Homo sapiens: one gene and its partners. The protein of the gene in region 2 purifies or fractionates together with the protein of the main gene of each other region. This does not show direct contact. Each region holds a gene or a part of one and is shown on either strand. Other genes may lie near its edges.

Region 1 (3,752 bases), on a different chromosome or scaffold from region 2:
TACAGCCATTTAAAAAAATAAGAACTTGCCAAACCAAAAAATCCTTCAATGGTGTATTCTGCATCATATTGTGTCCTCTTTGAACAAAAATAACATAACCCGCCACAGATAGAATTATTTTTTTAAGAGGTGAATGACTTTGTGTTCTGAGCTTATATCCCATCCCAGGCCAGTTGTCACATGATGTGGAAGTAAAAACTTAATCATGATAAAAATCATACATTTAGACAAACTTGGTGGAGTTACCATATAAAGGGAAAAAATTAGCCTGAATTATTGAAATTTTTAAATGAGGCCCATTTTAAACGTCAACTACCAGGAAACCATGACCTGGAACAGTATCTTTTTTTCTTTCCAAGGAGACACTTACAGACACTGGTTTAAATGGAGGCCCTGGCCTCTCCTAGTTCCTTCCCCCCAAACAACTTCCAACTGGGGCCATCAAGGGTCGATCAGCAGTGCAACTGCAAACTAAATATAGTACCTGACTGACCACAGGGTAAAAACAGCTGCTGTAGGTGGAAAAAAAAAAAGTTAAAAAGACAAAATGATACCGTCCCATTTCCCCATGCCACCCTAACCCTACCAAGAAAAGTAAAAGAGGACTAGGTGGACATTAGGAATAACCAAGAATAAAGCTGTTCTTTCAAACTGAGAAATAAAAGAAAAATTCACCTTTTTTTTTTTTTTATAACACTTCAAATACCTACTGTTAAAGAGGGCCTTCCACTTTTATGGTTTGTTTCTCAAGTTTAATCTACGAATCCAATCTCTACAGAGAAACAGTAACAGAAAGAAAGTAATCAGACAACAGATCACCCACACATTCAAGCCCAGTTAAAGTTGGCAAGAAATGTATCTAGTTAGGCTTCTACGGTTAACAAATGTATTCATTTCTTCGCCCAGCTTTCACTTGTCCAGGGGAAAGAACACAAGACCGAATTGTACTTCTGTTTCAAGAGGTCACTGTAAAAGCGCACTTCGGAGTGTAGACGTCTCCGATCTGTTCCAACATGACCACCTCTTTGGACCAAAGGCCAGAAACTGCTAAACGCGTGCCCTATTATTTAAAACGTGCATCTGCACCCACTTTGCTAAGCAGCATCAGACCCAGGCGAGGGGCGGGGAAAGGGGCGGCGGGTCCCACTCGTAGCCTCAGGACGACGCAGCCACAGCTTCCTAGAGAGCGATCTCGGCAGAACGGCAGGAAGCATGCGGAGAGGAAGGCGGGGAGGCGGCACGTGCTCTCCGTGCTGGGTCCGCCGGGCCGGCCGGGTGACCCTCGCCAGCTGTGGGGGAGCGGAGAGGTCCGCGCCCCCGGGAGCTCGGGTGGACGCCGAGACCCGGGAGCGGGAGGCGGCTCACCTGGACCCCGGTGTAATTCTCGAAGAAGAAGAGCACCATGCTCTGGTAGACGCAGTAGAGCCGGTCGTCCAGCGCTTGGTAGAAGCGGGCGGGCAGGAAGGCGGAGAGCAGCCGCCAGACCCCCCAGGCCAACACGTAGGTGGGCGCCGTGCCCAGGAGCACGACGCTGGGCAGCAGGTAGCGCATGGAGTACGTGTGGAGCACCAGGGACAGCAGCATCTTCTCAGCTCGGCGGCAGCGAGCTCCGCCTGCGCTCCCCGCCCGCCTCCCGGGCCTCAGTCGCGGCCAGCAGGCGGCCAATCACCGCCCGGGCCCGGGCCGCCGCGCCCGCCACCCGCTCCCAGCCTCCGCCCCCAGCCGCATGGGCCGCGCCGCCGCCCGGGGCCGGGTAGGCGAGTGCGGGGCTGCGTGCGCCGCTCCCGGCGGCAAAGCAAGGGAACCCGCGGCCCTCCCGGATCGATGGCTCAGGGATGCTCACACCCCATGACCCTCACCCATCGCCACATCCCCCTGCCGGGGCAGGGGGCTCCGCGGCAACAACGCGCCTTCTGATTGGTCGCCCGTTGCCATAGTTCCACCTCGGCGGCAATAACACGTCTCTTGATTGGTTGGTTTGGGCCGACAGTTGCAGTACAGCTACCTGCTGGGGCGCGGGCAACCCGGCTCCGGCCACTGCGCATGCTCCCCAGCTGGGCCGGCTGCGGACGCGGGAAGGGAGGTGGTGGCGACTGACGGAACTGGGTGAAGGTGGGTGCTGGCCGGAGGAGGGTCCGGGTGCCTCTTGTTCTGCTCCCTCGGGCCGGACGTGCGCGCGGTCAGGTTTAAGGGTCGCTGGAGCTGCCTGGAACGCGCACCTGCTGCTCACAAGCCCCTGGGCGCCGGGATGCACACAATTAGAGCAGTGAGAAAGTGGGTGTTAACGTTATCGGAGGTCTAATTCTTGCAGGCACCTGGGCCCAGGTTGTAGGCAGCTCGGCCCAGGTCGCGGGGCAGCTCGAGTGTCCCCATCTGCTCACTGCCAGTCCTTTGCAAGGGGACGCCGCCTCCTCAGCCTCCGCTCTGAGTGCGCAGCAGCCCCTCCTGCCCGTCTCTCGCTACCAGGGTGTTTCAGAATTAGGGTCCGTGTTTTTCCCCATCACAGTAATGATGATAATTACATGTTTATGCATAGCTGAAGAACAATCCCACAAGGATATTTCCATACTGTTTATTAGACCTTTTCAGAATTCACTCTTGCTTCATTTCCTCAGAGTCTGTTGGACTTGTTTCTGATTTTTTTTTAATAAGGAGCCTCGTTTTTTTCTGTAGTAATTAAAGTAGTTGCGTGCACATGTGTAATCCATAAAAAGCATACTTTTGTAGCCTTCACTAAAAGCTACGAAGGGTGGATAACTGTTTTATTGATGTTAAAGCAGATCCACAGGACTTTTGGATCTTTCTCCTCCCCTTTGGCTGTGGTAAAAATGGTTTAATATGTAACCCTTTTCAAGGATAGTTGTACTTTAAAAGAATGCCGAATGCTTTACCATATATATATATATATATATATATATATATATATATATATTCCCGCCCCCTCCCCACCACCACCATAATGGGAGCCTGTGCTACCTTTAGGCAGGACGGTATTTCAGTGGGAAGTTCTAATCAGGGCCAGGATGGTAGCTACTTTCTTTATACATGATTAACATCAAATAACAACATCATTGGTAGATGATGACCTTTGGGGACAAAGCCAGGTGAATGGAGATCTCTCAAGTAACAAGTATTTGAAGGCCAGCAGGAAGCATTACACAGTAAAAGGAGCTTCTCTCTTTCTGTGGCTGTCATTGTCCTGTACTGTAAGAAGCACTAGGTTTAGTACTGGTGGAAAAAAGTCACAGGTGTGGACAGTGTGCACAACTAATGCTCCTTATGCTTTCTTTAACTGAGACCAGACATCTCTACACTAGAACAGTGTGCGAAAAGATAAAGCAGGTTCTGTGTTCACGTTAGGATTGCTGTGTATAAAGTCAGTAAATATGTGTTTATGTGTAAATTTGTTGTGAATCACCCCAGATTACTGTTAGTCACGAAGTTGTAAACTTTTGTGCAATGTTTGCCATGAAAACACAGAACTTAACTTTCTCTTGTTCCCTCTTTATCTCCAAACCCAGCTCCTGACTATCAGTTATTGTCTGTCCTGCTCCCGCTCCTCTCTTCCTGCGAACAGTCACAGATCCACCCTCTCTTTCTGCCACTACCCGGCCCTGTTTTTCTGTTTTTTTTTTTTTCCCTTTTTCCGTGCAAACCTCTTAGTTGATAATCAGCCCACACCCTCTGCCTCCTTACCTTGTACTTTTGTTGAGCCCTTGCAGTCTGATGACCTTTTCCTCCCCTTTACTGGA
Region 2 (3,752 bases):
TCAAGACCAGCCTGGCCAAGACAGTGAAACCCCGTCTCTACTAAAAATAAAAAAGTTAGCCAGGCCTGGTGGCGGGCACCTGTAATCCCAGCTACTTGGGAGGCTGAGGCACAGAATTGCTTAAACCCTGGAGGTGGAGGTTGCAGTGAGCCGACATCGCGCCACCGCACTCCGGCTTGGGTGACAAAGCAAGACTCCGTCTCAAAGAAAAAAAGTAGGTGACAGAGCTGCAGATTCAGCTTTATCCTGAAGTTACAAAGGTGCTGAATATTAGAGCAGTGTTCCCGGAGGCCTTGGCAAGTCTAAGTAGAGTAAGTTATTGTGACGTTCTGGTTATGTCTATACCGTGAGGGAGCAACACTCATGGAATGATGATGCTCAGCTGTCACTGTTCTCCAAGGACAGCCATGCTCTTGGTAGAACACTACGTAGAGCAGGGGTTCCCAACCTCCAGGCCACAGGCCAGTACCAGTCCATGGCCTGTTAGAAATCAGGCCACACAGCAGGAGGTGAGTGGCCCGTGAGCAAGCAAAAGCTTCATCTGTATTTATAATGGCCCCCCAGCACTCGCATTACCGCCTGGGCTCTGCCTCCTGTCAGATCAGCCGTGGCACTGGATTTTCATAGGAGTTGGAATCCTGTGTGAACTGTGTGCGTGCATGGGATCTAGGTCGCCTTCTCCTTATGAGAGTCTAATGCCTGATGATCTGTCAGTGTCTCCCATCACCCCCAGATGGGACCATCTAGTGGCAGAAAAACAAGCTCAGGGCTCCCAGTAATTCTAAATTATAGTGAGTTGTAGAATTATTTCATTATATATTACAATGTAACAATACAGAAATTAAATGCATAATAAATGTAATGTGCTTGAATCATCCCAAAACCATCCCCCCAATTCTAGTCCGTGGAAAAATTGTCTTCCACGAAACCGGTCCCTGGTACCAAAATGGTTGAGGACTGCTGACAGAGAGGGTATGCAGGCCTCTATATGATCCCAGGGTTTCAGAGTCCCTTGGCTGCTGGTGCGTGATGACATTTTGTACCAACACACTGGTGTGCCAGGGCTCGTACTGACTCAGAGCTGCAGCGTGTCACTTCTCTGCATGACTCTTACACCTGAAGCAATGATCTGGGTGCTATGTCTCTCTGGGTGCCTGTCCAAAAGTACTGCCAGTAATGTGCTCAGGGAGGGGCTGCAGTCCCCTTGGTCATGCTGTTCCAAAGCACACATCAATGGAATTCAATCACAGGGAAGGAGAAAAGGCCAGTCCCTCCCTTTCCAAATAGTCCATCACTGAGAAATAAACTGCATCAATTTGATCAAACCTCAACATTTGTGAAAGCAGAGGTCCCAAACTCAAAAAGCCCTAGGGGCAAGCAGGCAAAATTAGTGAGCACAGAAGGCTGGGTAGTAGAGAGTGGTGACGATTATGGCAAGCTACGGAGGCACGTCCTGCCTAAAGAGGGCAGTAGTGACTCAGCCCTGTCAAGTACGGCCATGTTGAAGTGTGGATCTAGGGTTGCCTGACCTGACTTTTTCAGAAATGCTAGAAACCTGGATTTCTTTTTTATTAATGTACAATTTGCAAAACATTTGAGCCAAACAAACTGCATCCATGGCTAAATTTAGCCTGTGGCTGCTACTTGGCAACCTCTGCCCAGAAGCCAGAGTTGCAGGTTTGGGATAGATGAGTTCCATTACCACCAAGCAGATGTCTCGAGGTTCAACTTGCTAAGCCAGAGGGTGACACATTCACCTCCACAGACCCTGGCTCAGTCAGCACTTCAAGTTAGAAATGTCCTTTCTTCTCCTCTCCTGCCTTCCCCCAAGCTGCCTCTCTCAGCAGAGAAAGATGACTTTCCACCCTAACTCTAGAATAAGGCCACTGCTGAGTGCCTACTGCAGGAGCAAGAGATCCTACAGCCCAGCCATTCATTGTCTGTGCAGCCTGTTCATACCTGAGGAGCCAGGCCTGGGATCCCAGGTGGCTGCAGAAGAAGCGGGCTGTGGGGAATTATATTGGCAGCATCCTTCAGGAGGGTCAGATTCTCACAGGTGCATGGGTACCTGGCTGACAGCTAAATAGAAACAATGCCAAAACCACTGGTCACTTGGTTTGATTCTGTCCAGCTGATTATTGTAATTGGATGACAGGGGGATATTTCCTTCTCCTTTTCAATGAGTGATGGAAAGTGAGTGGACCTAGCTCAGGAGTCACCCTTCTGGGTGGTTATGTAAGGGGGAAGGTTATCTCCTTCCACAGGCAGAACTGTTCCTGCCTTTTGGCTACCTAAAGAATGAAATCAAGTCCAACCAAAGTCAAATGCCAGGAAATTTCAGAACTTCCTCACATTGCGTATTGCACCGTCTACAAACATCTTTGAAATTTTCCCTGCTCCAATACTCAGAGGGGATACAGAGTCAAAGAATGAATTAGAACAGAACCAACTACAATAGGGGAAAAGAAAGAAAGCAAGAAGAAAGCTAGCGAGAAAGCAAGAGAGCAAAAGAAGGAAAGCAAGAAAGAGAGAGACACAGAAATAAATACAGTGAAAAATGGCAGGATTTCTCATTTGGGGGTGATTGTGGCAATTAATGTGGAATAAGGAGAATAGTTTTGTTTTGATGGAGTTGCTGCATTGAAGTTCTTTAAAATGAGCTGTAGATTCAGAATTTTGTAATGCTGTGGATGGAGCCCTCTTCTGGAGAAATTTTTCAACAGGTATTACAAGATCAAAATGCAGAGATGTACACACTCACTCAGACGCGCACACAGAAACACTGTTGGCTACGTAGATGATATGACTGTCATTCAGGTGTAAATTAAATCCATAGTTTGTCCTTTTCCTACATTCCACTAAATATAAATTAACTAGACTCCCCAAGCAATTGTATTTTTGGAAGGAAATAAGGATGTTTTCAAGAACCTAGCTACACTTTAACCTAAACATTGAACTTCAGATTGAGGCTCAGTTTACACATCCAAGTGCTGATGCTTTTAGATAATGCAGTTATTGAGTATGTTGGTTTGTTGGGCAATTTCACTATAACACATAGAGGATACTTCTGGAAGTAAACAGATTTTACTTAACGGAAAACCCAAGGGCTAAAGATAGAAAAGGGGAGAAGGGAGGGAGGCAGAGTAGGAGCGATCAGCTAAGATGACTGTTGGGGCTTTTAGTATAGACTGTGGAATTACACAAATTCCAGATTACATACTCAGCTTTGCAGTTTATTAAACCTGTTTTGGGACTTGCTAAAAAAAAATATTCAGACAGGTGAACTCTATCACTGACTCCTTTCACTACATATTCCATTTCCCTAGTGCTCTGGAAATCTTACAGGCTGTCATGTATTGACCCTAGGGGGGGAGGGGGCAGCACCCTCTTCAACCCTGTGTCCTTTTCCTCATCCAAAAAGTTCTGCAAATAAACACTGCTCTTAAAACATAACACACAAATTTGCAGGAGCACTATAAGACACTGATTCTCATTGAAAATCCTGAAAATCAAGACTCTGACCCCTAGAGAGAACTCCCCACTTTATAGCGAAATCTCAGAATTCCATGGAACATTTTCAGTCACTCCCAAGCGACTGTCCTCCAAGCCTGAACCCCTCCCTAAATTCCTAATTCTTGGGGGATTACTCACTCATTGTTAGAACTTTTGGTTAGTTGTAAGTGCTACCCAAATAGGGAGGGGAATCACATTTACCATGGAATTTCTTGCTCATTTCTTTCTTGATTTGTTTC
Region 3 (3,752 bases), on a different chromosome or scaffold from region 2:
CCCGCTCCCTCCTCTTCTTTTCATTCACTGAAGAGGGGTCTGAAAAACAATAGTGCAGAGATTAAAACAGAATTTCTAACATTTATGCTTATTCTCTTCAATCACTTTAGATGAAAAGAGTTTTATCTCCCAAATAACAACTAATAGCAAGTCCTAGAGTCTTGTGAAAAATGGCAACTAGTAGTACCTATAATCTCAGCACTTTGGGAGGCTGAGGAGGGCAGATCACTTGAGGTCAGTAGTTCAAGACCAGCCTGGCCAACATGGTGGAACTCCGTCTCTACTAATAATACAAAAATTAGCTGGGCATGGTGGTACACGCCTGTAATCCCAGCTACTCGGGAGGCTGAAGCACAAGAATCCCTTGAACCTGGGAGGCAGAGGTTGCAGTGAACTGAGATTGTGCCACTGAAGACCAGCCTGGATAACAGAATGAAAGAGACTCTGTCTCAAAAAAAAAAAAAAAAAAAAAAAGGCAACCAGTCCCAACTCAGCATAGAAAGAAGATGAATGACAGTAGTTCCCCCTTATCTACAGTTTCAGTAACACATGGTCAACTATGGTCTGAAAATAATAAATGGAAAATTCTGAAAATAAGCAATTCATAAGTTTTATTGTTTTAAATTTATTTTTATTTTTTTAAGAGACAGGGTCTCCATTCCGTTGCCCAAGCTGGAATGCAGTGGCATAATCACAGCTCACTTTAAACTCCAACTCTTGGGGTCAAGTGATCCTCCCACCTCAGCCTCCCAAGCAGCTAGGACTACAGGTGTGTACCACCGCACCCAACTAATATTTTTGGTTTTTGTGGAGACACAGTCTCACTACGTTGCCTGGGCTCATCTGAAACTCCTGACCTCAAGTGATCAGCTCGCCTTGGCCTCCCAAAGTGCTGGAATTACAGGTGTGAGCTACTGCAGCCAAGCCCCTAAGTTTTATATTGTATGCTGTTCTGAGTAGTATAATAAAATCTTGCCAGTCCTGCTCCATCCAGCCTAAGACCTGATTCATCCCTTTGTTTAGTACATCCGCGTTGTATATGTTACCCCATTACTATATACAGAACAACACAGTGTTTTTTCCTATATCCACTAGGGGTCATGGAATGTATCCCTCATGGATAAGGGGGCTACTATATTATAGTTGCCATTTCTTAATCAGTGTTACCTAGAGAACAACTGAGGCAAAACCAACTCCCTGCCTTGATAAACATCAGAATCTTTTGTAGAGGATGTCCTAAAGAAATGGTACTGAAAATTCCAGCAGTTGAATTTGGGATAGAGCTATAGATTTTGGGAAAATTACTGAAATAAGTCTAAATTGGTCCACCTTCTATGAAGGGCATTCTATCAACCTAGGATCATATTACAGAACAAAGTGGTTTAGATCGCAAAAATGGTGAGGCAAACTAGTTGGTTCCAATCCTGGCTCTGCCTTCTATTAGTCACGTGATCTTGGGCAAGTTAGTTAATACTTTTGTGACTCAGTTTTCTCTTCTGTAAAATGGGGATCACAATAGTACATACTTTTCAGGGTCATTTTAAGGATTAAATGAGCTCATATATGTAAAGTTCTCAGAAGAGTTTAACACTTAGTAAGTGCCCAATTAAGTTTAGCTATTAATTGTCACCATCTATTGAAATTACAAAATGCTTTTGTTTTTGTTTTTTTTGAGACAGGGTCTCATTCTGTTGCCCAGGCTGGGGTGCAGTGGTAGCATGATTTTGGCTCACTGCAACCTCCACCTCCCTGGTTAAAGCGGTTCTCCTGCCTGAGCTTCCCGAGTAGCTGGGATCACAGGCATCTGCCACCACGCCCGGCTAGTTTTTTTTTGTATTTTTAGTAGAGATGAGGTTTCATCATGTTGGCCAGGCTGGTTTCAAACTCCTGACCTCAAGTGATCCACGCACCTCCGCCTCCCAAAGTGCTGGGATTACAGATGTGAGCCACCACGCCCAGCACAAAATGCATATACACTGTAAACCGGTAATTCCATTTCTAGGAATGATTAGGTATAAGGTGAAATGACTTGCACAACTTTATTGACCACAGCATTATTTGTACTAGCAAAAAATAATCAATAACTTATATATTACCAATAGAGGACAGAAGAGTGATTAAAGTACAGCACACTCGTACAATGGAAAGAAAAACTAAGCAGCCATAATAAAGAATAAATTTTTTTTTTTGGGGGACAGGGTCTTGCTCTGTCACCCAGGCTGGAGTGCAGTGGTGTGATCGCAGCTCACTGCAGCCTTGTGGGCTAAATCGATACTCTCACCTCAGTCTTTCCAGTAGCTAGCTAGAACTTGAGTAGCTAGCTAGAACTACAGGCGCATACGATCACATCCAGCAAATTTTTAAAATCTTTTGCAGAGATGAGGTTTCCCTGTGTTGTCCTGGCTGGTCTCAAACTCCTGGGCTCAAGAGATCCTTCCGCCTTGGCCTCCCAAAGTGTTGGGATTACAGGCGTGAATCACCACGCCCAGCCTAAGAATCAGTTTTTCATGTACAGTTATAGCATAATCTCTAAAATATTAAAAAACACCTGGTACAGAAGAGTAAGTTTGACATGCTAATGTTAATTTTAAATTCCAATGGGGTGAGCAGAAGAGGAAGAATATACAAATGTATGTGCTCTCTAAAAGGAAAGAAAAAAATAGCACACAAAAGCTCCTAATGGGAAGACACTATGATGTATGCAATGCCCATCTCTGAATCCTGAAACTCTTGGTGAAATTGCCAAGTTTACTGACAACCAAAGTAACCCAAAAGTCAGATCAGTGCTGCAAAATGTCCTCTGCAAGGCAATATGGTGATTAACAAACAAATGAGGCCGGGCGCGGTGGCTCATGCCTGTAATCCCAGCACTTTGGGAGGCCAAGGTGGGTGGATCACCCGAGGTCAGGAGTTCAAGACCACCCTGGCCAACATGGTGAAATCCCATCTCTACTAAAAATACAAAAATTGGCTGGGCGTGGTGGCGCATGCCTTTAATTCCAGCTACTCGGGAGGCTGAGGCAGAATTGCTTGAACCTGGGAGGCGGAGGTTGCAGTGAGCCAAGATCGCACCATTGCACTCCAGCCTGGTGACAGAGTGAGATTCCGTCTCAAAAAGCAAACAAACAAACAAACAAATGAAAACTACTATTTCAGATTCCTTGCACTTCCTCTAAAAGTAGAGGATTGCTGTGAAAATATTACCACACTAGAGTATTATTTGCCATGTGTTTGAGATGTCAAACAATTCAAAAGCTAAAAAAAAAGTATGATTACAACAAAAGTAAAACTTTTTTTTCATTTTCCTTTAAATGCATGAAGGAAAGTTTCTACTTAAATCATCCATATTAATAAAAGTCATCATTTTCAGGGTAACTGTATAAACAGGAGTCAAATACACTGAAATTTACCACAAATTCCAATTTGGTTAAAATATGAGTTTATTCATCTCAAACGATAATTTTAAAATAAATTTTTAAATAATATTCACATTCTAACTTTTTTGATAACTGTATATTTAAGAACAGTGTAGTAAGTTTATAATCTACTTCTAGAATTACAAAATAGCACAATAAAATTGAGCACTGAGCAAAGCCAAATAAACACTGACCATACTATAAGATTAACAAGTAATAATCTTGTACTTGGAACACTGTTTATGTGATTGTGGCCAGGCTCCTTCTGCCATCACTGTGAAATATCACCTTACAGGCCCTGACTGACCCATAATTTAATTTACTAAGAAGATAATA

What was found.
Region 1: the proteins of CDH13 (region 2) and AGPAT5 purify together in Homo sapiens (affinity purification with mass spectrometry; 2 studies listed by BioGRID and IntAct, with this or other methods). This does not show direct contact.
Region 3: the proteins of CDH13 (region 2) and VMP1 purify together in Homo sapiens (affinity purification with mass spectrometry; 2 studies listed by BioGRID and IntAct, with this or other methods). This does not show direct contact.

What each region holds. Positions count from the first base shown.
Region 1 is NC_000008.11:6,706,501-6,710,252, reverse strand, and holds the start of AGPAT5 (1-acyl-sn-glycerol-3-phosphate acyltransferase epsilon), read right to left. Parts: upstream 1,612-3,752; 5' UTR 1,585-1,611; coding exon 1,366-1,584; intron 773-1,365; exon of another isoform or gene 711-772; intron 1-710. UniProt on the Homo sapiens protein: Converts 1-acyl-sn-glycerol-3-phosphate (lysophosphatidic acid or LPA) into 1,2-diacyl-sn-glycerol-3-phosphate (phosphatidic acid or PA) by incorporating an acyl moiety at the sn-2 position of the glycerol backbone.
Region 2 is NC_000016.10:82,629,849-82,633,600, reverse strand, and holds part of CDH13 (cadherin-13 isoform 1 preproprotein), read right to left. Parts: intron 1-3,752.
Region 3 is NC_000017.11:59,731,625-59,735,376, reverse strand, and holds part of VMP1 (vacuole membrane protein 1), read right to left. Parts: intron 40-3,752; coding exon 1-39. UniProt on the Homo sapiens protein: Phospholipid scramblase involved in lipid homeostasis and membrane dynamics processes. Has phospholipid scramblase activity toward cholesterol and phosphatidylserine, as well as phosphatidylethanolamine and phosphatidylcholine.